Homo sapiens: one gene and its partners. The protein of the gene in region 1 purifies or fractionates together with the protein of each later gene. This does not show direct contact. Each region holds a gene or a part of one and is shown in the gene's direction. Other genes may lie near its edges. The genes, in order: NIPSNAP3A, MCCC2, OCIAD1, SLCO5A1, TMLHE, CYP24A1 and TARS2.

The links.
Region 2: the proteins of NIPSNAP3A (region 1) and MCCC2 purify together in Homo sapiens (affinity purification with mass spectrometry; one large-scale study listed by BioGRID and IntAct). This does not show direct contact.
Region 3: the proteins of NIPSNAP3A (region 1) and OCIAD1 purify together in Homo sapiens (co-immunoprecipitation; one large-scale study listed by IntAct). This does not show direct contact.
Region 4: the proteins of NIPSNAP3A (region 1) and SLCO5A1 fractionate together in Homo sapiens (co-fractionation; one large-scale study listed by BioGRID). This does not show direct contact.
Region 5: the proteins of NIPSNAP3A (region 1) and TMLHE purify together in Homo sapiens (affinity purification with mass spectrometry; one large-scale study listed by BioGRID and IntAct). This does not show direct contact.
Region 6: the proteins of NIPSNAP3A (region 1) and CYP24A1 purify together in Homo sapiens (affinity purification with mass spectrometry; one large-scale study listed by BioGRID and IntAct). This does not show direct contact.
Region 7: the proteins of NIPSNAP3A (region 1) and TARS2 purify together in Homo sapiens (affinity purification with mass spectrometry; one large-scale study listed by BioGRID and IntAct). This does not show direct contact.

Annotation. Positions count from the first base shown.
Region 1 is NC_000009.12:104,750,683-104,754,182, forward strand, and holds part of NIPSNAP3A (protein NipSnap homolog 3A), read left to right. Parts: intron 1-273; coding exon 274-484; intron 485-2,223; coding exon 2,224-2,382; intron 2,383-3,500.
Region 2 is NC_000005.10:71,649,840-71,653,339, forward strand, and holds part of MCCC2 (methylcrotonoyl-CoA carboxylase beta chain, mitochondrial isoform 1 precursor), read left to right. Parts: intron 1-229; coding exon 230-344; intron 345-2,829; coding exon 2,830-2,915; intron 2,916-3,500. UniProt on the Homo sapiens protein: Carboxyltransferase subunit of the 3-methylcrotonyl-CoA carboxylase, an enzyme that catalyzes the conversion of 3-methylcrotonyl-CoA to 3-methylglutaconyl-CoA, a critical step for leucine and isovaleric acid catabolism.
Region 3 is NC_000004.12:48,855,088-48,858,587, forward strand, and holds part of OCIAD1 (OCIA domain-containing protein 1), read left to right. Parts: intron 1-2,125; coding exon 2,126-2,278; intron 2,279-3,500. UniProt on the Homo sapiens protein: Maintains stem cell potency. Increases STAT3 phosphorylation and controls ERK phosphorylation. May act as a scaffold, increasing STAT3 recruitment onto endosomes. Involved in integrin-mediated cancer cell adhesion and colony formation in ovarian cancer.
Region 4 is NC_000008.11:69,674,479-69,677,978, reverse strand, and holds part of SLCO5A1 (solute carrier organic anion transporter family member 5A1), read left to right. Parts: intron 1-1,305; coding exon 1,306-1,370; intron 1,371-3,500.
Region 5 is NC_000023.11:155,515,453-155,518,952, reverse strand, and holds part of TMLHE (trimethyllysine dioxygenase, mitochondrial isoform 1 precursor), read left to right. Parts: intron 1-3,500. UniProt on the Homo sapiens protein: Converts trimethyllysine (TML) into hydroxytrimethyllysine (HTML).
Region 6 is NC_000020.11:54,163,987-54,167,486, reverse strand, and holds part of CYP24A1 (1,25-dihydroxyvitamin D(3) 24-hydroxylase, mitochondrial isoform 1 precursor), read left to right. Parts: intron 1-1,653; coding exon 1,654-1,745; intron 1,746-2,923; coding exon 2,924-3,035; intron 3,036-3,500.
Region 7 is NC_000001.11:150,493,919-150,497,418, forward strand, and holds part of TARS2 (threonine--tRNA ligase, mitochondrial), read left to right. Parts: intron 1-2,563; coding exon 2,564-2,710; intron 2,711-2,891; coding exon 2,892-2,990; intron 2,991-3,500. UniProt on the Homo sapiens protein: Catalyzes the attachment of threonine to tRNA(Thr) in a two-step reaction: threonine is first activated by ATP to form Thr-AMP and then transferred to the acceptor end of tRNA(Thr). Also edits incorrectly charged tRNA(Thr) via its editing domain.

The DNA of each region.
Region 1 (3,500 bases):
ACTCCTACCCTGTGGAGTGTGCTTTCATTTTCAATAGATCTCTGCTTTTGTTACTTCATTCTTTCCTTGCTTTGTGCATTTTGTCCAGTTCTTTGTTCAAACACCAAGAACCTGGACACCCTCCATCAGTAACATATTGAGAATTGACAACAGAAGTACAAACATGAGTAATGAGTCTATGAGTGTCCCTTGTACCAGATTCAGATTAGGTTTTAACACAATATAATGAATCCTGTCTTCTCAAGATATTTACATTTGTCTTATCTTCTTCAGATGTGCTCATCTTTTGCTACGGGACCCAGACAATACGATGGAATATTCTATGAATTTCGTTCTTATTACCTTAAGCCCTCAAAGATGAATGAGTTCCTGGAAAATTTTGAGAAAAACGCTCATCTTCGGACAGCTCACTCTGAATTGGTTGGATACTGGAGTGTAGAATTTGGAGGCAGAATGAATACAGTGTTTCATATTTGGAAGTATGGTAAAGAGTCATCCAATTTTGGCTTTCAGTATAGATTTTCATTTTTCAGTATAGATTTTCATTCTGTTAAATGTAACATAAAACTTAGTTCTTGGATGTATATTATTTTAGATACATACAGGTTAACTAAGACTTTTGAAAAGCAATACCAAAAAAATAAATTCAGTTCTTATTCTTCCCAGTGGTACACCTCTAACCCCTTGCTTAAACATTACATTATATTACATTATAAATTGGAAGACATGGCATCTCATATATCAAGCGATAAAATTGTGAACTAGACTTTAAACCTCAGAAAAATATTAAAATGGTTTGCTGTAAAGATAGTTCATGAAAAATTTAAAGCAGCAATTGTAAAAGTCCAAGTGGATTAAGATCACAAAAGGAAAGGAGAAGTATCTTTTCTCTTTTTGAAGCTAGGGGGCTGGATATCAGTATTTTAGCAGAAATAATTCAACCATTTAAGGGACTTCACAATATGGAGGTTTATAGGGGATGATGGTTAACTTTCAATCCTCACTGAACTCTGAGATTTAATAATTCTGTTATGTTTAGAGACCACATTTGTTTCATATCTGTACCCCCAGAGTTTTGAGGAATTCACTGTCATACTACTCTAGGGAGGTAAAAGAAAAGGAATGAAAGAGAGTTCTTCCCGTGTTGAAACTAACCTACGCCTGGTTTAGTAGAGGAAGGAGAATAAGTTACAAGAATGCCCAGAATGCTTGTTACTCCAGTGTCTACATCAGGACTTGATGATACCTAAAGAATTTTTAATAATTTCATTTAGTGTTTGGTTTAGGGTTTTTCCCTGTTAATAGAAAAAGCCCCATTAAAATACATTTTATGCTTTAGATGTGGTACAAGTTGTATCACAGCCCATTAAAAAAACTAAGTTCTGATATACCTCACTTAAGTTGTAAGATAGGTATTCTTCCTTATCCCAATGTAAACCATATGAACCTCTCTTGCCATTAGTCTTATGAGGTCCTAATGGTAATTATAGTACTAGGCCCATATGTTGGCAAATGTATATAACTGTTTGGGTAACTTAAATAGAAGAGAAATAAGTGCTGGGGAGAAAGAATGGATGACAATAAGAGAATCAGCATTATTTCTTTGAAATCTGTTTGTTCAAAGGAGAAGAGGCTTAAAAAGTACGGTTTAACTTCACTCATGTTAAATTTGATTCAAGATGTTTTAACTTCACTCATGTTAAATTTGATTCAGGGTGTATCTGAACTTGACTACCCACCACCACCAAAGAAAAACAGTCTTTCTCTAAACTAGCACTATAAGTTAAATGCCTCAATCAAGTAAGAATAGTTCACATATACTGAGTATTAACTAGTGCCAACCGCTATATTCTAAACTCTTTTCATGTGTTAATTTAATCCTCATACAACCCTGGAGGTAGATGTCTTATTATCTCAATTTCACAGAAAGTGAGGCACAGAAAGATTCAATAACTTACCTAATTCACAAAACTGCCTACTATATGGTTGAGCCTATAAAGCCTATTATGTGGCATTACAGTTAGTTTGCATTTCTACTGCCCTTTTTGTCCTTGAGCAACTTCAGGGCAGATGGTCACATCTGTTTACGTTGGTGTCTCCAAAGGCCTAACACAAGGTTCTTATATGGCATCAATGACCATTGCTGATGTGAATGAAACCCAGAAAAGTACAGGTGATTTAAAATTGAATTTTTTATTTTTCTTAATTCTTTTCTTCCCACAGATAATTTTGCTCATCGAACTGAAGTTCGGAAAGCCTTGGCCAAAGATAAGGAATGGCAAGAACAATTCCTCATTCCAAATTTGGCTCTCATTGATAAACAAGAGAGTGAGATTACTTATCTGGTACCATGGTGCAAATTAGAAAAACCTCCAAAAGAAGGTAAGTCCTTCCTTCTTAGTCACTGAGTTTTGATGAATAAAATACTAAAGAACTTAAGTGATCAAAACTGAAGTTCCTTTGGAAAAAAATAAAATTAATTCTTTGTTTTATATAGAAACATACAGTGATTGTTGTGGTAAAAATAAATGGGAGCTCTTACCCCATCCTTTAAAAAAATGAGCATAAAATAATGAGATATTTTTCAAATTGAGACCTTGCAGATTTGTAAAGCTTAACTGTGTTATAGAGAAAGCTGACATGGTCAGTAGAGGTTGAGAATTTGTGCATTGGGAGCAGAGAACGTGTTGATAGGTAAGGGATAGCATAAGAAGTTTTGCCATAATTTTAAAATAATATGATCTTTAAAATGTAAAAGTATTTCCATAAATTATAACTAATCTTAAATCATTAAATACAGCTTTGCTTATAAAACTGAGTATTTGGGGGAAACAGATTAAGTGAAACTGCCAAGCTATATTACTTTAATCTAACTTTTGTGTCTTCTTTCTTGTTTCTCAGTTTGAAAGTAATTGCTTAAGATTTGTCTTCTTGCTGATTTCACTTCTTGCTGACTTAAAGAAACTATTACCTCAATCCAGTTTTAAATAAAGGTCAGATTAGAAAAGCATAAACTTATTTAAATGTTATTTTACTTCCCCCATTATTCCCAACTTTGTAGTGTATTTAGGTTACAAAAAATTTACAAAGTCTTCCTTGGATCTTTACCTACTTAGGTGTCCCCTCAGCTCTCAGCACTATCTAAATAAAATAGTTCACTTCTCTGACAGTGTCAAATCTTGGTTCTCCTCCTCTGTGTACATCACTGCTTGGAAATTTTTACATGCTTTTCCTACTTGTCCCAGAGTTTCTTTCTCTCCACCAGCCCTATACTTCTGTCCAAAGTGTACAATACTTTTCAAGTATTTACCTGGATATTTAGGAAAAATAAAACCATCTCTTTAGGTTTGTCTTTTTTCCTCCAAAATTCAAAGATATCACTTCAGGTCCACTCTTTGCTTTGCTGTTCCTGTTAAAAATGGAAACTTATAGGGAGAAATTATATGAAGAAAAACATAGTGGAAATTGGAAAGAATGAAAATATAGATTGGAAAATTCTT
Region 2 (3,500 bases), on another chromosome or scaffold:
ATACCCAGAATTACATGGAGAACTTAGAAGTCCCATCTGTGCTCAGGACCCTCCTCTGGAGTCTAGTCTGGGGTGTGTTCCAGGCATTTGTATATTTGTGAAAGCTCTACAGATGATTGTAATGTGCAGCCAGAATCAGGAACCACTAATTTAAAAGGCAAACATGGGCCTCTGAAAATCTATGTTGTATATTGACTTAATTTGTTTATTCTTCCTTTTCTTCCCCCAGCCCAAGATTTCTCTACATTTGGCCAAATGCTCGTATCTCAGTGATGGGAGGAGAGCAGGCAGCCAATGTGTTGGCCACGATAACAAAGGACCAAAGAGCCCGGGAAGGAAAGCAGGTCGGTGTCGTTTTCTCTTGTTTCTCTCTGGTTTTGCCTCTCACCATAAACACCCTGGAGCCAAGGAGCAGCGTGCCTGGAAGCCCTTGGTGTTCATGGCTGGGGACCTGGCGCACACTGCCTGGCCATATTTAGACTGTGCTGCCCTGGAAGTTGTTCCAGCAAATCACATGATTTCTGTCCTTTATCTTTTTAAAGCCATTTCATTTGGGGTACTTTCTTTGTGGCCATTTAAAATTGTTTCAGAATTTCCAAGAAAACACTTTTTTATTTTATTTTTATTTATTTTTAAAATTTTTGAGACAGAGTCTCGCTCTGTCACCCAGGCTGGAGTGGAGTGCCGCAATCTCGGTTCACTGCAGCCTCCACCTCCTGGGTTCAAGCAATTCTCATGCCTCAGCTTCCTGAGAAGCTGGGATTACAGGTGTGTGCCACCACGCCAGGCTAATTTTTGTATTTTTATTTATTTATTTATTTATTTTTGAGACAGAGTCTCGCTTTGTCGCCCAGGCTGGTGTGCAGTGGCACGATCTCGGCTCACTGCAAGCTCCGCCTCCCAGGTTCACGCCATTCTTCTGCCTCAGCCTCCCGAGTAGCTGGGACTACAGGTGCCCATTACCATGCCTGGCTAATTTTTTTGTATTTTTAGTAGAGATGGGGTTTCACTGTGTTAGCCAGGATGGTCTCGATCTCCTGCCCTTGTGATCCACTCGCCTTGGCCTCCCAAAGTGCTGGGATTATAGGCTTGAGCCACCGCGCCCGGCCTAATTTTTGTATTTTTAGTAGAGACAGGGTTTCACTATGTTGGCCAGGCTGCTCTCAAACTCCTGACCTCAAGTGATCTGCCCACCTCCCAAAGTGCTGGGATTACAGGTGTGTGCCACCATGCCCAGCCAAGAAAACACTTTAGAAACTGACAGTAAGTATCTGAGGCATAAAGATGTTTGATTCTTAGTCATTTGTACTTAGTGAGATTTAAATAAGTCTGATGTACTACTTTGATTTTATGACCAAAAGCAGCAGAATTTTGTTCTTTCTATTTTACTTTTAGATTGTTGTTAAGGATACCCTGAGTGGGAGGGCTCCGTCATCTATTGAGAATTGAATAACATTATCCTGTGTATAAATGAAGAAAAATGGAAAGGGCAGTGGAAACTTGATGAAAGGCAGATCAGCAAGCGGCTGCTTTTAAAATGAATTCTTTTGTTTGTGTCTCTGTTGGAGATTGTTTGAAATTTTGCATTAATTTTTATTAGTTACAACTTTTAACTCCTGTGTAAGCACCAAGTATGAAGATGATGGTTGTGTGTTCCTGAAGTTGCTTAGGTACACTGTTGTCTCATTATGGGAAGGGATGGAATGGAGGGAGCCCTGTCTGCTCTGTGCAGGAATCATCAGGTCTTCCACCTAGATTGTGGAGTGAGGTACTGCCTCCCTGAATGCATCCATCCATGCCTCACATCCCTAGTTGTCTTTTCCAAGCACTCGGAACTCTGGAGACTTACATTGAGGTTTCAGATTCACTTTAGTACCTACTAGTATCAAAGGAAACAGATAGCTTTGCTTTTGTGCGAGTGGTTGGGGTGTGGGTGTGTGGGTGGGGGAGGTGAGATATGAAATTCTACCTGATACTTCAAAGACATGTCTGAAACTCTATGAAGCCTAGCATGGTGATCTCTTATTAAGTAGTTGTTCTTTGATTACTTCAATATACAGATACTTGAATTCATTCATTTTTATACAGGAAAGGAAAGCACAGTGTGTTAATGGTTCTCCCTCAGAATTCGTGACCTAGAAAATGATATTAAGGTATTAGCATATTTACGTAAAAGAAGGTAGAGTTTATTTGAAATAAGTCTTTGTTTCTGCTGTCGAGTTGCTTTTTGAGTTGAAAGTATTTTTCAGGGTTTCAAATTAAGTTCTGAAGATTTTTACATCTGAATTAATTATCACTTGATCCTTGTAATACTGATGGGAAGGCTGTGAAATTCTTAATTAGGGGAAAATATCTCTCAGTTCTCTGGGAACTTGACTGAAAAGGTTATTCAAGATTTGGTTGGTATTTTACCCCTTTAAGCTTAAACATTTAAGCTTAAGTTTTAAATTTTGGCTATTTTAAATGAGAATCTCATACTTTTCCACATTCTTAACTGGAGGTTGCTAAGTGTAATGCAGCCCTTTTGTTGGGTTGTATAATTCACATCTATTATTGTACCTTGCTGTGATACACAGTACCCTGGGCTTTCACCTTACGTGAAATAGCCTCAGGATATTGTCTCTGTTAGGAGAGATGGGATGGGGCACTAACTTGATACTCATGTCTTAGCGTGTATGTTAATGATCACTTGTAATTTATACATCACTATGCACATGTTAGATGTAACATTATTATTCATGACATCTGTTGTTTCTTTTGAATTGAGATGATCTAAACAGGGCCAGTTGTTCACTGAAGCTGACTTACTCATGGCCTCTTTTCCTTTAGTTCTCCAGTGCTGATGAAGCGGCTTTAAAAGAGCCCATCATTAAGAAGTTTGAAGAGGAAGGAAACCCTTACTATTCCAGCGCAAGGTGGGGGCCAGAACATCACTAACTCTCTGATGGGTGCAGATGGCAGTCAGAGGAACAGCTTTACAGAGCTCTGTGTAGTTGAGATGGTCCAGCATTCATAGGAACTGGAAAATAACATTTGGACACACTTAATTTTGTACTGTTGTTTCTTTACAATCTGAATGGCTACTGCTGAAATGCCACCCCTCCTCCCAGCATCCCTGCACTGTGGACTCACCACCAGTGGTCTGATTCTCGCTTCCCTTGTCTTCCCCCTAGTTGAGGTGTCTGGGGCCTGGAGGGGTCCTGCAGCCCAAGGTGGGCCATGTTAGGAGCCGAGAATAAGTTATAAGCTTGGCTGTGTTACTTCAGAAGTTCTAATTTTTGCTTAAAAACCCCTCTCCTTGATCATTTTGTTTTTACCCCATTTTAAACATGAGATTGGTTGAACACTTACTGGCATTTGTTGACAAGTATGCTTGTACGTTTGAAAGGTGATTAGTCACTGCCAGGGTCTGTGTGTCGGCGCCAAATAATTACCTCACAGACCATTGCCGCTGTTGGCTCGGTTTTTTTCTTACACCACTTAATGAGGTAATAAATTAT
Region 3 (3,500 bases), on another chromosome or scaffold:
ATGGTAAAATATTTTTTATAAGAAAAAGTATTAGACCTGGAAGGAACTTCAGAGATCATCTGCTCAAACTACCATATTTCGCAATTGAGAAAACCAGGATTCAAAGAAGCTTAGTGATTTGCCCAAGGACATTTCCTAATTGTCAGCAGAGTGGGGTTAAGAACCCAAGGTTCCTGAAGTACACACGATTTCCTTCAGAATTTTTAATATAACATATATGGTGAAGGGAAATGAGTTCAGTAATTACTTATTACTAATGAAATGCAAAGTGTTTTAATCCCAATATAAGGTTATAATATTTTTCTTTACATTCTTTTTTTAGTAAGAAAAATGTAGTTTTGAACCATCATATAATACTAGAACTAATTAGGAGAAATTTAAATCCTCTTTGCTTTATATAAGTATAGTATATATTTATTTAGCAGAATAAATGTTTATGGTTGAAAATGGCTGGGTGCAGTGGCTCATGCCTGTAATCCCAGCACTTTGGGAGGCCGAGGCGGGTGGATCACCTGAGGTCAGAGTTCAAGACCAGCCTGACCAATATGGCGAAACCCTGTCTCTACTAAAAATGCAAAATTAGCTGGGCATAGTGGCACATGCCTATAATCCCAGCTACTTGGGAGGCTCAGGCAGGACAATCACTGGAACCTGGCAGGGGGAGGTTTCAGTGAGTCGAGATTGTGCCCCTGTGCTCCAGCCTGGGTAACAGAGTGAGACTCTGTCTCAAAAAAAAAAAAAAAAGTTTATGGTTGAAAACATTATTTAATGTATAGTTATGTTGCTTAGAAAATTCTGATTATTCACTGGGATCCTACCTTTGAGTTCTAAATAAGTATCACAAAAATTATTTTTTAAAAAGTTAATATTAAAAGTATATGCCCAATTTGTATGTCTTATTGAAAACATCTTTGAAAAACAGTACTTTTGGTGTGGTATGTGGTAGGTAAGACTTTGTAAGTTAAGTAGTTGTTCACTGAATGTTAGCATCTTTTTTTTTTAATGTTCATATGGCCTTTTTTGCTGTTTATAAATTGTATAAACTATGTTCACTATTTGATCCTGTCAACCAATATTAGGAGTAACCACTGCATTATATTTACATTTGACTCTATGATAATATGTAATATTCACATTTTGACTCTCTTTGGGAGAAATAAAGAATAAATGTTAGTTCCCAGGCCAAAATAACAGTTGATACTTTCTTCTGCATCAACATTGCATCTGTTAGACTGGAATGAAAACAACACATATTCTGATTAAAGGCTATGTTTTATACTTTTCAAGTAATTATTTTCAACTTTTTTTCCTTTTTTTTTGAGACAGAGTTTTGCTCTTGTTGCCCAGGCTGGAGTGCAATGGCGCGATCTCAGCTCACTGCAACCTCCGCCTCCTGGGTTCAAGCGATTCTGCCTCAGCCTCCTTAGTAGTTAGGATTACAGGTGTGTGCCACCACGCCCAACTAATTTTGTGTTTTTAGTAGAGATGAGGTTTCTTGTTGGCCAGGCTGGTCTTGAACTCCTGACCTCAGGTGATCCGCCCGCCTCGGCCTTCCAAAGTGCTGGGATTATAGTTGTGAGCCATTGTGCCTGGCCTATTTTCAGTATTTTTGTTTAAATTTTGTAAAAAGGTAAAATAAATGATTTTTGAAAATAGCTGGAGTTGTTTTCATAGAGTCTGTGGTTATAGGACTATTTAACTATATATTGAGTAAAATCTATGCTATGTCAAGTTTTATTCAGTTGTCCCTAGTAGAATATATTTCTCTTTTAATTCTGTATACAGTATGAGTAACTCCAGTTTAAAACACTGGTATTTTAATGAGTTTAAATTGTACTGTTATATATTATGATACATATTTTTCTTCTGGCTGTGGTTTAGTTTTTAAAATTTTTGATGTCCATTTTAATTTTTAGAAATAAAAGCTTAAAAATATGGGTGGAAGTAGATTTCAGTTTGATGATTATCTTGGTGAAAGTATAGTACCTGTGAAATGGTGGTAATAATTTGATTCTTTATTCTATTTTGATTGTAGCTCCTTTTGTAAGGAGCATTTGTAAAATTTAGTTGCTTTAGAGTTATACAAATCCTTTTATTACCATTTATTAACTGTTTGTTGTTTTAGGACCTGATCCCAACCTTGAAGAAAGTCCTAAAAGAAAAAATATTACATATGAGGAATTAAGGAATAAGAACAGAGAGTCATATGAAGTATCTTTAACACAAAAGACTGACCCCTCAGTCAGGCCTATGCATGAAAGAGTGCCAAAAAAAGAAGGTATGATAGTTTAGTCTGAATCACTTTACTGTTGAGGATTGGAAACTAAAACATTACTTTAAAACAATACTATAAAAAATTAATTAATATGTGATTTAACTCTTCAAGCAATTAACCAAAGTAAAATATTTTTAAAATAGTACTTTACAGTTATCAGTTCTTTTTTTTTTTTTGAGACGGAGTCTTGCTCCGTCGCCAGGCTGGAGTGCAGTGGCACGATCTTGGCTCACTGCAGCCTCTGCCTCCTGGATTCAAGCAATCCTCCTGCCTCAGCCTCCCAAATAGCTAGGACTACAGGCCCCCACGCCCAGCTAATTTTTTGTATTTTTAGTAGAGATGGGGTTTCATCATGTTGGCCAGGATGGTCTCGATCTTTTGACCTTGTGATCCGCCTGCCTCAGTCTCTGAGAGTGCTAGGATTACAGGCTTGAGCCACCGTGTCCGGCCAGTTTTCCATTTTTAAGGTGTTCCAAAGGCCATTTTGTGTTAGAAAATAATGAAGTCAAGGCCAGGTGTGGTGTCTCATGCCTGAAATCCCAGCACTTTGGGAGACCAAGCTGGGTGTATCACTTGAGGCCAGGAATTGGAGACCAGCATGGCCAACATGGCGATACCTTGTCTCTACTAAAAATACAAAAATCAGCTGGGCATGGTGGTGCATGCCTGTAATCCTAGCTACTCGGGAGGCTGAGGCAGGAGAACTGCATGAACCCAGGAGGCAGAGGTTGCAGTGAACCGACATCACGCCACTGCACTGCAGCCTGGATGACGGAGCGAGGCTCTGTTCCCCCCTCCCCCCGCCAAAAAAAGGAAGAAAATAGTGAAGTCCAAATAGTAAGTCTTAAGACAGCAAGATTAGTTTAACACAGGGTAGAGACATACTCATTTGACTGTTTCTCTCTTACAACAAATCTCCTTGGAGATCTGATAGTCTTATTTTCCTAATGATACATCTATCGCATAAGTTGCTGTAGTGACCTGAGGTTGGCGTTGCGCTGTAATACCACTTGTGGCCTAACCACAGAATGATTGAGTAATGAGATTGATTTTCTTGTACATTTGGGTTTTTCTCGTGTTTTTTTGTTCTGTTTGTTTGTTTTTTCTTTTTGAGATGGTTTTATTCTGTCACCCAGGCTGGAGTGCAGTGGTGTAATCATGGCTTACTGCAGTCTTGACCTCCTGGGTTCAAGCAGTCCTCCTACCTCAGCTTCCTGAGTAGCTG
Region 4 (3,500 bases), on another chromosome or scaffold:
CACCCATGGGTCTGGGCAGCTTCTGCCCAGATTAGGGGGTGCAGTGCAGGGAAGGGGATTAGGGGGGATTAGGGGGTGCAGTGCAGGGAAGGAATGAAGAAAGGGAGTCAGTTCTTACTCTTTCTCCAGGCTCCTCAGATGCCACAATGCTGGGCACCTTGCAGGAAGCACCTGCTGAGATGTCATTGCTTAGCAAGGGCAGTTGGCTGCACCAGATGTATTCTGGCTTCCTTCCCACTTGGTGCTGAATCAGGCATTTCCCAGCAAAGCTGTTCCTTGACAGCCAGATAGTAGTGCATGAAAGGCCCACTGGTTTGTTTACTCAGTTCTTCCAGCAGCAGATATTTATGGAATAACAACCTGTGTGCAGCACTTTGCAAATTGCTCTGAGAAATAAAGAAATTGGGGAAAAGGTGACAAGGGCACTGGTCTTGGGAAAGTTCCTATTATATACCATACTCTCATGGGTATGTGATGGAGAGGTTAAGGTACTGCAGCATTAAAAAGACATGAATCATTCATAAATTTACTCAAATAATCTTATTCTTTGCACTTTAATTCCTCAAGAGATGTTAAATAACCCATTGGCTACTTTTTCTTTTGGTGTTCATAAATGGCAAATCGCCAGTTGGCTTCTAACCTAAAATTTCAGAAAAGGAGCCCTTTAATCTTTGCTAATTACAGAACCAGTTGACTCCAATCTTCCTGTCACATGGGAATAACTTGGAGTATAAGTTTTTAAAAAAGAAAAAAAGATGTGGTTGGAGGGCTTATGCTTCCTCTGATCTTTGACTTGTTTCCTATACATTTTTTGAATATACTTTTATTCTTTACTCTTCTTTCTTCCTGTTTTGGAAGAATTATTGGAGTAATTTTCAATGTATGCATCTACCACTCTGGAAGATGCAGGCACACAGGCAAAAAAACAAAAACAAAAACAAAAACAAAAAAACCGTGCAGTATTTAAGATGAAATTCTATAATTAAAAAAAAATGGATCTGATTTTGGAAGCTCAGTTAGAGGCATTCCAGCTTCTTCAGCCAAAAGCCTTTAACCCTCTACCAGTATTTTTGTAGAAACAATTAGAGATAGTCAGAGTTTCTTTGATGTCTACATTGGGAAAACCTTTATTCAGGGATTTAGCCACCAGCAATCTTGTGTGGCTATTGTTAGTAAATAATAGTGAATTAAATATTTTGGCATGGCATCTTTAGTCCCTGGCTCTGCACAAAGCCGACTTGATTTGACATTCATTTTCTTGGGGCTACTATTTAAAATGCATTTCCTTCTTTCCCTTCACTGTAGGTCCGTAGAAGATGAGGAGAGACCTTTTGCACTGGGAATGCAGTTTGTTTTGTTGCGAACACTTGGTACGTCCCTGAATTTCCAAGTGTACCTCTTAGTTCCTCTTTGCAGATGGCAAATTTTCACTGTCCTTTAAAAATGGCAAGTCATGTCATTTATTACCATGAATAAGATTTTACAGGCTAGTGGTGAGGGTACAACTTCCTTGTTTTCTGATTTGAACTAGAAGCTGACAGGTTCTGTTGTTTGATGAAACAAAACAAAACCAACGTTAGGTTAGTTTCTTTTTCATTATGAACATAAACTTGGACAAAATTCCCCAGAATTTTGCACAGTAAGAAATAGGAAATCAAGCAATTTGTGAAGAATTTGTAATCCTAGCATTTTGACCCCTTTATGCCTTTTTACTATGAAAGCAGTAGAAATTGGTCTTTATTTGTGAAGTTTTCAATGCCTCACTTCTTTACAGTAATTTTATTGGACTAAACAAAGAGTATACCTATCAAGTTTTCTGAGAAAAAGAAAAAACTTTAAAAAGGAAAAGAAAGGTCTCCAAAGTGACATATAGGGACTGCCTTGTAAGTATTTACTTATCAACAAGAGAAGCTCAGTAGTGCTGTGTCCATGTGATAAACCACAGAGTACATTTGTACGGGTGGAACATAGGTCTTATTTTTACAAACACCACATCCCTCTGTGAGTTCTTGAGACAATGGGAAATAAGCATGTAACATACAACATTCCTTTGATCAGTTTCAATGTATTTTAAATTGACGTCTTTGTCATCAAGCTTATTTTTCCTTTTATAATGTCTTTTTCTCAAGTGGCAGTCTGTCATTTCCTTCAGCTGTTATTTTCTCCTCAGTAATCAGTGTCATTGTCTACAAGACAAAAAAATTGCTTTTTGATTCAAATTTCTTATTTCAGTTTTGAAGAGGTAATGTTTAAAAAGGGCATCTTCTGACCCCCTGAAGCATGAATCCCCTGGCATTCTCCATTTGTCATATGTTGTGGTTGATGGCCCAGTCCAAGAATGAGCATTTTCAATAAGCCCCAGGAGGAAAATGCTTCTAGTTCCATTTAATGAGTGGCTTGTTTTTTTCAGTACTAATAAGACTCTGAGGCTATCATTTTTTAAAAAACATGCTGTTTAAAGGAAATCCTGACACACTTAGATATAGTGAAGAAGTCTGCCTTAGGCCGGGTGCAGTGGCTAATGCTTTAATCCCTGCACTTTGGGAGGCCGAGGTGAGTGGATCACCTGAGGTCAGGAGTTCGAGACCAGCCTGGCCAACGTGACGAAACCCCATCTCTACTAAAAATACAAAGAAATTAGCTGGGTGTGGTGGTGCCTACCTGTAATCCCAACTACTCAGGAGGCTAAGGCAGGGGAATTGCTTGAACCTGGGAGGCGGAGGTTGCAGTGAGCCGAGATGGAGCCACTGTACTCCAGCCTGGGCAACAAGAGCAGAACTCTGTCTGAAAAAAAAAAAAAAGTCAGTCTTATAGATCTTGTTAAAAGTTAAACAGTATTATTTAGAAATAACATTTAGAAATAAGGAGATTTGTTAACCAAAGGGGTAATTGAATAAGAAAAGAAATATATATGTATATATATATGTATTTTTTTTTTGGAGACAGAGTCTTGCTCTGTTGCCCAGGCTGGAGGGCAGTGGCACAATCTCAGTTCTCTGCAACCTCTGCCTCTAGGGTTCAAGTGTTTCTCCTGCCTCAGCCTCCCAAGTAAGTGGGATTACAGGCACTTGCCACCATGCCTGGCTAATTTTTGCATTTTTTTTTTTTGTTTTTTTTTTTAGTAGAGATGGGGTTTCACCATGTTGGCCAGGCTGGTCTTGAGCTCTTGACCTCAGGTGATCCACCCGCTTTGGCCTCCCAAAGTTCTGGGATTACAGATGTGAGCCACAATGCCTGGCCAGAAAAAGATAATTTCTTCTTTTTGCTTTGCCCCTCTCTGATGCCGTGGAGTTGGGGTCATTTGATATGATTTGGAGGTAAAGGTGAGTCAACAGATGTATGCTACAGCATCAAGAATAAGTGGAGGGAGAACATTTCAGACATTTATTATTTAATTCAACTTTATTTTAACTTCTATGGATTGTGAAAAAGTCTAGTTGGGCCAACAAGCCAATTTTCATTTCCCCCCAAATTCTGAAGCAGAAAAAGAGTTTTAAAAA
Region 5 (3,500 bases), on another chromosome or scaffold:
AACAAAATTGATAGACCGCTAGCAAGACTAATAAAGAAAAAAAGAGAGAAGAATCAAATAGACACAATAAAAAATGATAAAGGGGATATCACCACCAATCCCACAGAAATACAAACTACCATCAGAGAATACTACAAACACCTCTACGCAAATAAACTAGAAAATCTAGAAGAAATGGATACATTCCTCGACACATACACTCTCCCAAGACTAAACCAGGAAGAAGTTGAATCTCTGAATAGACCAATAACAGGCTCTGAAATTGTGGCAATAATCAATAGCTTACCAACCGAAAAGAGTCCAGGACCAGATGGATTCACAGCAGAATTCTACCAGAGGTACAAGGAGGAACTGGTACCATTCCTTCTGAAACTATTCCAATCAATAGAAAAAGAGGGAGTCCTCCCTAACTCATTTTATGAAGCCAGCATCATCCTGATACCAAAGCCGGGCAGAGACACAACCAAAAAAGAGAATTTTAGACCAATATCCTTGATGAACATTGATGCAAAAATCCTCAATAAAATACTGGCAAACCGAATCCAGCAGCACATCAAAAAGCTTTTCCACCATGAGCAAGTGGGCTTCATCCCTGGGATGCAAGGCTGGTTCAATATACACAAATCAATAAATGTAATCCAGCATATAAACAGAGCCAAAGACAAAAACCACATGATTATCTCAATAGATGCAGAAAAAGCCTTTGACAAAATTCAACAACCCTTCATGCTAAAAACTCTCAATAAATTAGGTATTGATGGGACGTATTTCAAAATAATAAGAGCTATCTATGACAAACCCACAGCCAATATCATACTGAATGGGCAAAAACTGGAAGCATTCCCTTTGAAAACTGGCACAAGACAGGGATGCCCTCTCTCACCGCTCCTATTCAACATAGTGTTGGAAGTTCTGGCCAGGGCAATCAGGCAGGAGAAGGAAATAAAGGGTATTCAATTAGGAAAAGAGGAAGTCAAATTGTCCCTGTTTGCAGACGACATGATTGTTTATCTAGAAAACCCCATCGTCTCAGCCCAAAATCTCCTTAAGCTGATAAGCAACTTCAGCAAAGTCTCAGGATACAAAATCAATGTACAAAAATCACAAGCATTCTTATACACCAACAACAGACAAACAGAGAGCCAAATCATGGGTGAACTCCCATTCACAATTGCTTCAAAGAGAATAAAATACCTAGGAATCCAACTTACAAGGGATGTGAAGGACCTCTTCAAGGAGAACTACAAACCACCGCTCAAGGAAATAAAAGAGGACACAAACAAATGGAAGAACATTCCATGCTCATGGGTAGGAAGAATCAATATCGTGAAAATGGCCATACTGCCCAAGGTAATTTACAGATTCAATGCCATCCCCATCAAGCTACCAATGACTTTCTTCACAGAATTGGAAAAAACTACTTTAAAGTTCATATGGAACCAAAAAAGAGCCCGCATTGCCAAGTCAATCCTAAGCCAAAAGAACAAAGCTGGAGGCATCACACTACCTGACTTCAAACTATACTACAAGGCTACAGTAACCAAAACAGCATGGTACTGGTACCAAAACAGAGATATAGATCAATGGAACAGAACAGAGCCCTCAGAAATAATGCCGCATATCTACAACTATCTGATCTTTGACAAACCTGAGAAAAACAAGCAATGGGGAAAGGATTCCCTATTTAATAAATGGTGCTGGGAAAACTGGCTAGCCATATGTAGAAAGCTGAAACTGGATCCCTTCCTTACACCTTATACAAAAATCAATTCAAGATGGATTAAAGATTTAAATGTTAGACCTAAAACCATAAAAACCCTAGAAGAAAACCTAGGCATTACCATTCAGGACATAGGCATGGGCAAGGACTTCATGTCCAAAACACCAAAAGCAATGGCAACCAAAGCCAAAATTGACAAATGGGATCTAATTCAACTAAAGAGCTTCTGCACAGCAAAAGAAACTACCATCAGAGTGAACAGGCAACCTACAACATGGGAGAAAATTTTCGCAACCTACTCATCTGACAAAGGGCTAATATCCAGAATCTACAATGAACTCCAACAAATTTACAAGAAAAAAACAAACAACCCCATCAAAAAGTGGGCAAAGGACATGAACAGACACTTCTCAAAAGAAGACATTTATGCAGCCAAAAAACACATGAAGAAATGCTCATCATCACTGGCCATCAGAGAAATGCAAATCAAAACCACTATGAGATATCATCTCACACCAGTTAGAATGGCAATCATTAAAAAGTCAGGAAACAACAGGTGCTGGAGAGGATGTGGAGAAATAGGAACACTTTTACACTGTTGGTGGGACTGTAAACTAGTTCAACCATTGTGGAAGTCAGTGTGGCGATTCCTCAGGGATCTAGAACTAGAAATACCATTTGACCCAGCCATCCCATTACTGGGTATATACCCAAAGGGCTATAAATCATGCTGCTATAAAGACACATGCACACGTATGTTTATTGCGGCACTATTCACAATAGCAAAGACTTGGAACCAACCCAAATGTCCAACAATGATAGACTGGATTAAGAAAATGTGGCACATATACACCATGGAATACTATGCAGCCATAAAAAATGATGAGTTCATATCCTTTGTAGGGACATGGATGAAATTGGAAACCATCATTCTCAGTAAACTATCGCAAGAACAAAAAACCAAACACCGCATATTCTCACTCATAGGTGGGAATTGAACAATGAGATCACATGGACACAGGAAGGGGAATATCACACTCTGGGGACTGTGGTGGGGTCGGGGGAGGGGGGAGGGATAGCATTGGGAGATATACCTAATGCTAGATGACACATTAGTGGGTGCAGCGCACCAGCATGGCACATGTATACATAGGTAACTAACCTGCACAATGTGCACATGTACCCTAAAACTTAGAGTATAATAAAAAAAAAAAAAAAAGAAGAAAAGTACAATTGTTCCAATAGAAAAATGTGAGAAAGGACTGAACAGACAAATCATTAAAGCAGGAGTCAGCAAACATTTTCTATAAAGAGCCAGATGGTAAATATTTTCAAACTTTGTGGGCTATATGAGTGAATGGAGCTATAGACAATATGTAACAACATGGACAGCATGTGTTCTGAAACAGGCATTACAAAACCAAGCACCAGATTTGACTCATCAACCATAGTTTGGTAGTCCCTGCATTAAAGAAACATAGATGTCTAACAAATATAGAAAGTATTCTTATTAGCCTTAGTAAGCAAATAAGTTAAAATTATTACAAGATAGCAGTTCCACTTTAGTTACCAAATTAGAAAAAAATATATTTTAAAAATAAGAATACTCCATTTTGATGGACACATATGTACTGTTGGAGGGAATGAAGATAAGTAGACTTTCTAAAAAGTAATTTGATTATGTATATCAGAACTCTTAAAAGTTTATATCTTTGAAATTTCTAAATACAAAGATACGAACTTTTAAGAAATGTAATATACATTCTATTTCTAAATTATA
Region 6 (3,500 bases), on another chromosome or scaffold:
TTTTGTGTTTTTTAAGTAGAGATGGGGTTTTGCCACCGGTTGGTCTCAAACTCCTGACCTCAGATGATGCTCCCACCTCCACCTCTGAGAGTGCTGGGATTACAAGCATGAGCCATTGTGCCCAGCAGAGTAACTAATTATTTTTAAAGTTCATGTACCATCCAGAGCTATCTCACATATTCCCAGTGGTGTACCTGCCAACCACTGTGGAACACAAATACGGGGAAACCTTGAAAGGCTGGGAAGAAATAAGTAGAGTTTGGAAAACATGGAGGTAGTTGGAAAAGCTGTGGGTGGGTGCTGACTAAGCTAATTGACTCTCACTCCTCAGGTTTATGATTTTAGGCCATTTGTTTACCTTTTTAATGCTAGTCTCCTACTTTATAAGTCAAGAGCCAATTATCCACCACTAAAAAGTTGGTTGCAGTAATCCTGTATAATTTTTTTTTTCCAGACTGTGTCACTCAGGCTAGGGTGCAGTGGCCAGTGGTATGATCTCGGCCCACTGCAACCTCGGCCTCCTGGGCCCAAGAGATCTTCCCACCTCAGCCTCCAGAGTAGCTGGAACTACAGGCACATGTAGCCATGCCTGAATAATTTTTTTATTTTTATTTTTTTGTAGAGACAGCGTTTTGCCATGTTGCCCAGGCTATTCTCGAACTCCTGGGCTCAAGCAGTCTGCCTGCCCGAGCCTCCTGAAGTGTTGGGATTACAGGTGTGAACCACCACGCTCGGCCCTGTGTCCTTTTTTTAAAAAAAAAAGGTTACAAGAGATAATTTTTAGGACAATGGGGAACATTTTAAAATGGGACACAGTAGATTTTTTATGGAATGGTCGCTAAGGTTCTTAGGGATGTTAATGACATTGTGGTTATGTTGGAGAATGCTTTATTCTTAGGACATTACTGCTAAAGTATTTAACGGTGAAGTGACCTGAGAGCTCAAAATTATTTTCAGATGCTTCAGCACACACAACCACGTATACACTTGTATGCATACATACACACAAAGAGAAAGAAATGGCAGCAAGATGTTGATGAGTTCGGGGGATTCAGGTATTCATTTTACCATTCCTTCAACTTTTCTCTAGGTAAAAAGTTTTGAAATGAAGAGTTGAGAATTTTATTTGTAAAAAGGTTCCTTCTAAATAAAATGATGAAATGGAAGGAAAAAAAACCCTATATGAAGTGCTAGCCCAGTACCTGGCGTGTAATGGGTGTTTAGAACATAATTATTCCCTTCCCTTCTCTTCCTCTGGTGAATGGCTTCCAATTCATTATGTCAGGAGATAGAATCCAATAAGTGACTCTAAAAACACAGCTGGGTTAGAGGCAGAGTGCAGACCCGACCCTGCAGCACCTTTGCTAGGGCCCCTGGATCTCCTGTGTGACTTGATCAGGACAGTGGATCTCTGATCATGACACTCTGAGGTGATGAGTCATTGGACCTGGAGATAATTTCTAGAAAAAGAAAGTGATGGTGTCCCCTTTCTCTCAGACTCTGCTTTTCCTCAATATTCTTGGACTGTTGCCTTTTCTCAGAAAATCCCACACTTTTAAGAGGCATAGAATTGAGTCTTTAATAACCAGCTAAACATAGACTCCAACTCCAGCATTGCTGTTTGTGTAAAGTGATGATTATTTTAAATGACAGGTATCTGCCTCGTGTTGTATGAGAAGAGATTTGGGCTTCTCCAGAAGAATGCAGGGGATGAAGCTGTGAACTTCATCATGGCCATCAAAACAGTAAGCAGCCTCTTTAAGAAAGCAGTTTTCTTGATTGATGTTTTACAGATCGATTTTTACAGAACTTCACAGTGATTCCCAAAAAATGGCATACACACATATTTTATTTCAATAGTTAAGTGTTCATTTTAATGTGCATTATATATTTTAGTATATTTATGTGCATATATGCGGCTGTCTCCAACCTTTTTGGCACCAGGGACCAGTTTCGTGGAAGACAATTTTTCCATGGACAGGGCAGGGTGGTGGGGCAGGGGAGGGAGGATCATTTAAGTGCATTACGTTTACTGTGCACTTTATTTCTGTTATTATTATATACTCACCATAATGTAGAATCAGTGGGAGCCCTGAGCTTGTTTTCGTGCAACACGAAAGTCCCATCTGGGGGTGATGGGAGACAGTGACAGATCATCAGGCATTAGATTCTCATAAGGAGTGTGGAACATAGATTCCTCGCATAGGCAATTCACAATAGGGTTCACACTCCTGTAAGAATCTAATGCAGCCATTGATCTGAGAGGAGGCAGAGCTCAGGTGGTAACACCTGCTGGCCCGCTGATCACCTCCTGCTGCGCGGCCCCGTTCCTAACAGGCCACTGACCAGTACTGGTTCACGGCCTGGGGGTTGGGGACCCCTGGATATATGCACGTAACATAAAGAAGCACATTAAATCCATTATTTCTTTGTTTAGGCAAGGTTAAAATAGCTATTTTAATTAAAGATCAGTTGATTAAAAATACTTTTTAAAAAGAGCCCAAAATTTTTCAGATTTTATCTTTTTGAATAGTTTGGGTGGCGTGTAGATAGGATAAACGCTGTGAAATTGGTTTGGAAATCACTGAAGTTTGGAAATTATTAGAAATTGAAGTGAATATGAAAGTTATCGTTTTTCCTCTTTTTTTTTTTTTTTTTACAATTAGGTCATAAGATTACAATTTTTATCAAACACATCCAGTGGAAAATCATCCCCCACATTACCTTCAATATTGAAAGGAGGTGGAGGTGGGGTACGGGCATTGCTCCCAGGACCGGTGCAGAGAGAGCCGGGGGTGTCCTTGTAATTCCAGCCTTTTAAAAAGTGCAGGGTGCTGCGGTTTAGAATGTTCCTCTTCCAGAACGAACATTGTCTTTGAGAGAAGGAGAATTCAGAATAAAAAGGCATTTGCATTTCTCTCAGATGATGAGCACGTTTGGGAGGATGATGGTCACTCCAGTCGAGCTGCACAAGAGCCTCAACACCAAGGTCTGGCAGGACCACACTCTGGCCTGGGACACCATTTTCAAATCAGGTAAAGGGCCGCCCTTCACAACCAGCCAGAACCAGCCCAGCACCCCCGTGTCTGGAGCTTCAGAGAGGAGGTCTGGAGTGATCTCCTGAGCCTCATCACCACATTTAGGTTTTGCAAACACAGGTGTTTTGGGGATTGCCCCAGCATACACAAATTCTAAGTAACAAGCTTTCTGTAGTCTTCTTTGGGAATTAAGAGTGGTTAAAAGTAAAATCTGGCCAGGTGCAGTGGCTCACCCCTGTAATCCCAGCACTTTGGGTGGCCCAGGCGAGCAGATCACTTGAGGCCAGGAGTTTGAGATCAGCCCGGTCAACACGGTGAAACCCAGTCTCTACTACAAATACAAAAATTAGCTGGGCGTGGTGGTGGGCACCTGTAATCCCAGCTACTCAGGAGGCTGAGGCAGGAGAATTGCTTGAACCTGGGAGGCGGAGGTTGCAGTGAGCCAAGACTGAGCCACTGCAC
Region 7 (3,500 bases), on another chromosome or scaffold:
GGCCAAGGTGGGTGGATCACTTGAGATCAGCCTGGCCAACATGGCAAAACCCCATGGCGCGGTGGCCTTGGGTAAATCTTACTTATTTTCCCCATCTATAAAATGAGGCTATTAATTCCTTTTTGTCCTACCAGTAAATTCACCTCATAAAGATAATGAAAACCAGGCCAGGCATGGTGGCTCACACCTGTAATCCCAGCACTTTGGGGAGGGTGAGGCAGGCGGATCACTTGAGGTCAGGAGTTCGAGACCAGCCTGGCCAACATGGTGAAACCCTGTCTCTACTAAAAATACACAAATTAGCTGGGTGTGCTGGCCTACGCCTGTAATCCCAGCTACAAAAAAGGCTGAGGCAGGAGAGTCACTTGAACTCTGCCAGGAGGCAGAGGTTGCAGTGAGCTGAGATTGTGCCACTGCATTCCAGCCTGGGCCACGGAGCGAGACAACATCTCAAAAAAAAAAAAAAAAAAAAAGATAATGAAAACCAACTAATTCAGGAAAAAGGAAAAGTTAAAAAGTGCTGTAAAATACAGACTGTCGGCCAGGTGCGGTGGTTCACACGTGTAATCCCAACACTTTGGGAGGCCAAGTTGGGCGGATCACTTGAGCTCAGGAGTTCAAGACCAGCCTGGCCAACATGGTGAAACCTCGTCACTACTAAAAATAAAAAATTAGCTGGGCGTGGTGGCATGCACCTGTAGTCCCAGCTACTCGGGAGGCTGAGGCAGGAGAATTGCTTGAACTGGGAGGCAGAGGTTGCAGTGAGCCAAGATTGCACCACTGCACTCCAGCCTGGGCAACAGAGTGAGACTCTGTTTCAAAAAATATACATATAGGGGCTGGGCGTGGTGGCTCACGCCTGTAATCCTAACACTTTGGGAGGCTGAGGCGAGTGAATCACGAGGTCCAGAGATCGAGACCATCCTGGCTAACACCGTGAAACCCCGTCTCTACTAAAAATACAAAAAATTAGCCAGGTGTGGCCGGGCGCAGTGGCTCACGCCTGTAATCCCATCACTTTGGGAGGCTGAGGCAGGCGGATCATGAGGTCAGGAGATCGAGACCATCCTGGCTAACACGGTGAAACCCTGTCTACTAAAAATACAAAAAATTAGCTGGGCGAGGTGGCGGGCGCCTGTAGTCCCAGCTACTTGGGAGGCTGAGGCAGGAGAATGGCGTGAACCCTGGGGGGTGGAGCCTGCAGTGAGCCAAGATCACGCCACTGCACTCCAGCCTGGGCGACAGCGAGACTCCGTCTCAAAAAAAGAAAAAAAAAATTAGTCGAGTGTGGTGGTGGTGGCCTGTAGTCCCAGCTACTTGGGAGGCTGAGGCAGGAGAATGGCGTGAACCTGGGAGGCGGAGCTTGCAGTGAGCCGAGATCGCGCCACTGCACTCCAGCCTGGGTGACAGATGTATATACACACACACACACACGTATAGACTGTTTCTCATTAGTACTGTTTAACAGTTTTATTTTATTTCATTTTTATTTTTTTGAGACAGAGTCTTGCTCTGTTGCCCAGGCTGGAGTGCAGTGGCCTGATCTCGGCTCACTGCAACCTCTGCCTGCCAGGTTCAAGCAATTCTCCTGCCTCAGCCTCCTGAGTAGCTGGGTTACAGGCACGTGCCACCACACCTGGCTAATTTTTGTATTTTTAGTACAGACAAGGTTTCACCATGTTGGTCAGGCTGGTCTTGAACTCTTGACCTTGTGATCCACCCACCTCAGCCCCCCAAAGTGCTGGGATTACAGGTGTGAGCCACTGCGCCCGGCCTCTCATTAGTACTTTTTTGTTTGTTTGTTTGTTTGTTATTTTTTGAGATGGAGTCTTGCTCTGTCGCCCAGGCTGGAGTGCAGTGGTGCGATCGCGACTCACTGCTAGCTCCACCTTCCGGGTTCATGCCATTGTCCTGCCTCAGCCTCCCGAGTAGCTGCGACTACAGGCACCCACCACCACACCCAGTTAATTTTTTTGTATTTTTAGTAGAGACGGGGTTTCACCATGTTAGCCAGGATGGTCTCGATCTCCTGACCTCGTGATCCGCCCGCCTCGGCCTCCCAAAGTGCTGGGATTACAGGCGTGAGCCACCGCGCCCGGCTCATTAGTACTGTTAAAGGAGAGAGCAGGCAGAGGCTTTTGGATTTCATGTGGCCAGGAATGGGATATGGTATAGAAGACTGACTTTTCTAGCAGCTGTATAGGATATTGATAAATGGAGGAATAGACTGACATTTGACCAGAGCTTATGGTTATTCCTCTAAGCAGTCATTGATTAGAATGGGAAGGAACTAAGTAAAGGGGTAATGAGAATGGGGAGAAAAAGAGATGGCAAGGTAAGGTTAGGCCTGACCAGGTTGTATGTAGGAATTAAGAGTCAGGCAATTTCAACACTTTAATCTAGAAGAATGGTGTCTAGAGGATGGAGGTGTTCATCCTACTGGTGGGATTGTTGTCAAGAGGCATACCTGTGACACTTAACACTGAGAGTATCATTTGAGTCTTGAAAAAGGTGGGGGCCTTCAGTCCTCATCTTTCCTTTGATCCCCTATGTCCTCACACAGAACTCATCATCCTTATGGAGGTCTTCAGGGGCCCCAGAGACACTGCAGAGAGTGTCAGGGATTTCCTTCCCCACAACAGAATTGCTGAGGGTCTGGGAAGCATGGAGGGAGGAAGCAGAATTGCGGGACCACCGGCGCATTGGGAAGGTACAGGAATTGGGAAGATAGGGAGGGATGGTGATAAGGGTTGGAGAGAGATGACAGAACCTGATTATGAAATTGGGAGCAGATTCAGTCACACAGACTGAGCAGCTCCGTCAGTTGTTCTGAGTTCCAAAGCCACCTCCTTGCCCTTGAGGTGACCCAATATTGCTATTCCTGACCCCAGGAACAGGAGCTCTTCTTCTTCCATGAACTGAGCCCTGGGAGCTGCTTCTTCCTGCCACGAGGGACAAGGGTGTATAATGCACTAGTGGCGTTTATCAGGGTAAGGGGACCCAGGTCTAGAGGAAAGAAGACCAGGGAGGGGCTGAGGGACTAGAAGAAGCTAAGGTGTTTGTGTTAAAAGATGGGGGTTGGGGCCGGGCACAGTGGCTCACATCTATAATCCTAGCACTTTCGGAGGCTGAGCCGTGCAGATCACCTGAGGTCAGGAGTTCGAGACCAGCCTGGCCAACATGGCAAAACCCTGTCTCTACTAAAATAAATACAAAAAATTAGCCAGTGTGGTGGCAGCGCCTGTAGTCCCAGCTACTGGGGAGGCTGAGGCAGGAGAATCCCTTGAACCCAGGAAGGGGAGGTTGCAGTGAACTGAGATTGAGCCACTGCACTCCAGCCTGTGTGATACAGTGAGACTCCGTCTTGAAGAGAAAAAAAAAGGTGGGGGGGCTGGTTTGGAATCATAAACATAAATATTGAAAGTGCTGGTGACCTTTAATACTACAATTGTGTGGTCTGCAGTCGGGGAGCATAGAGATGGGACCTGGTATTTAATAGG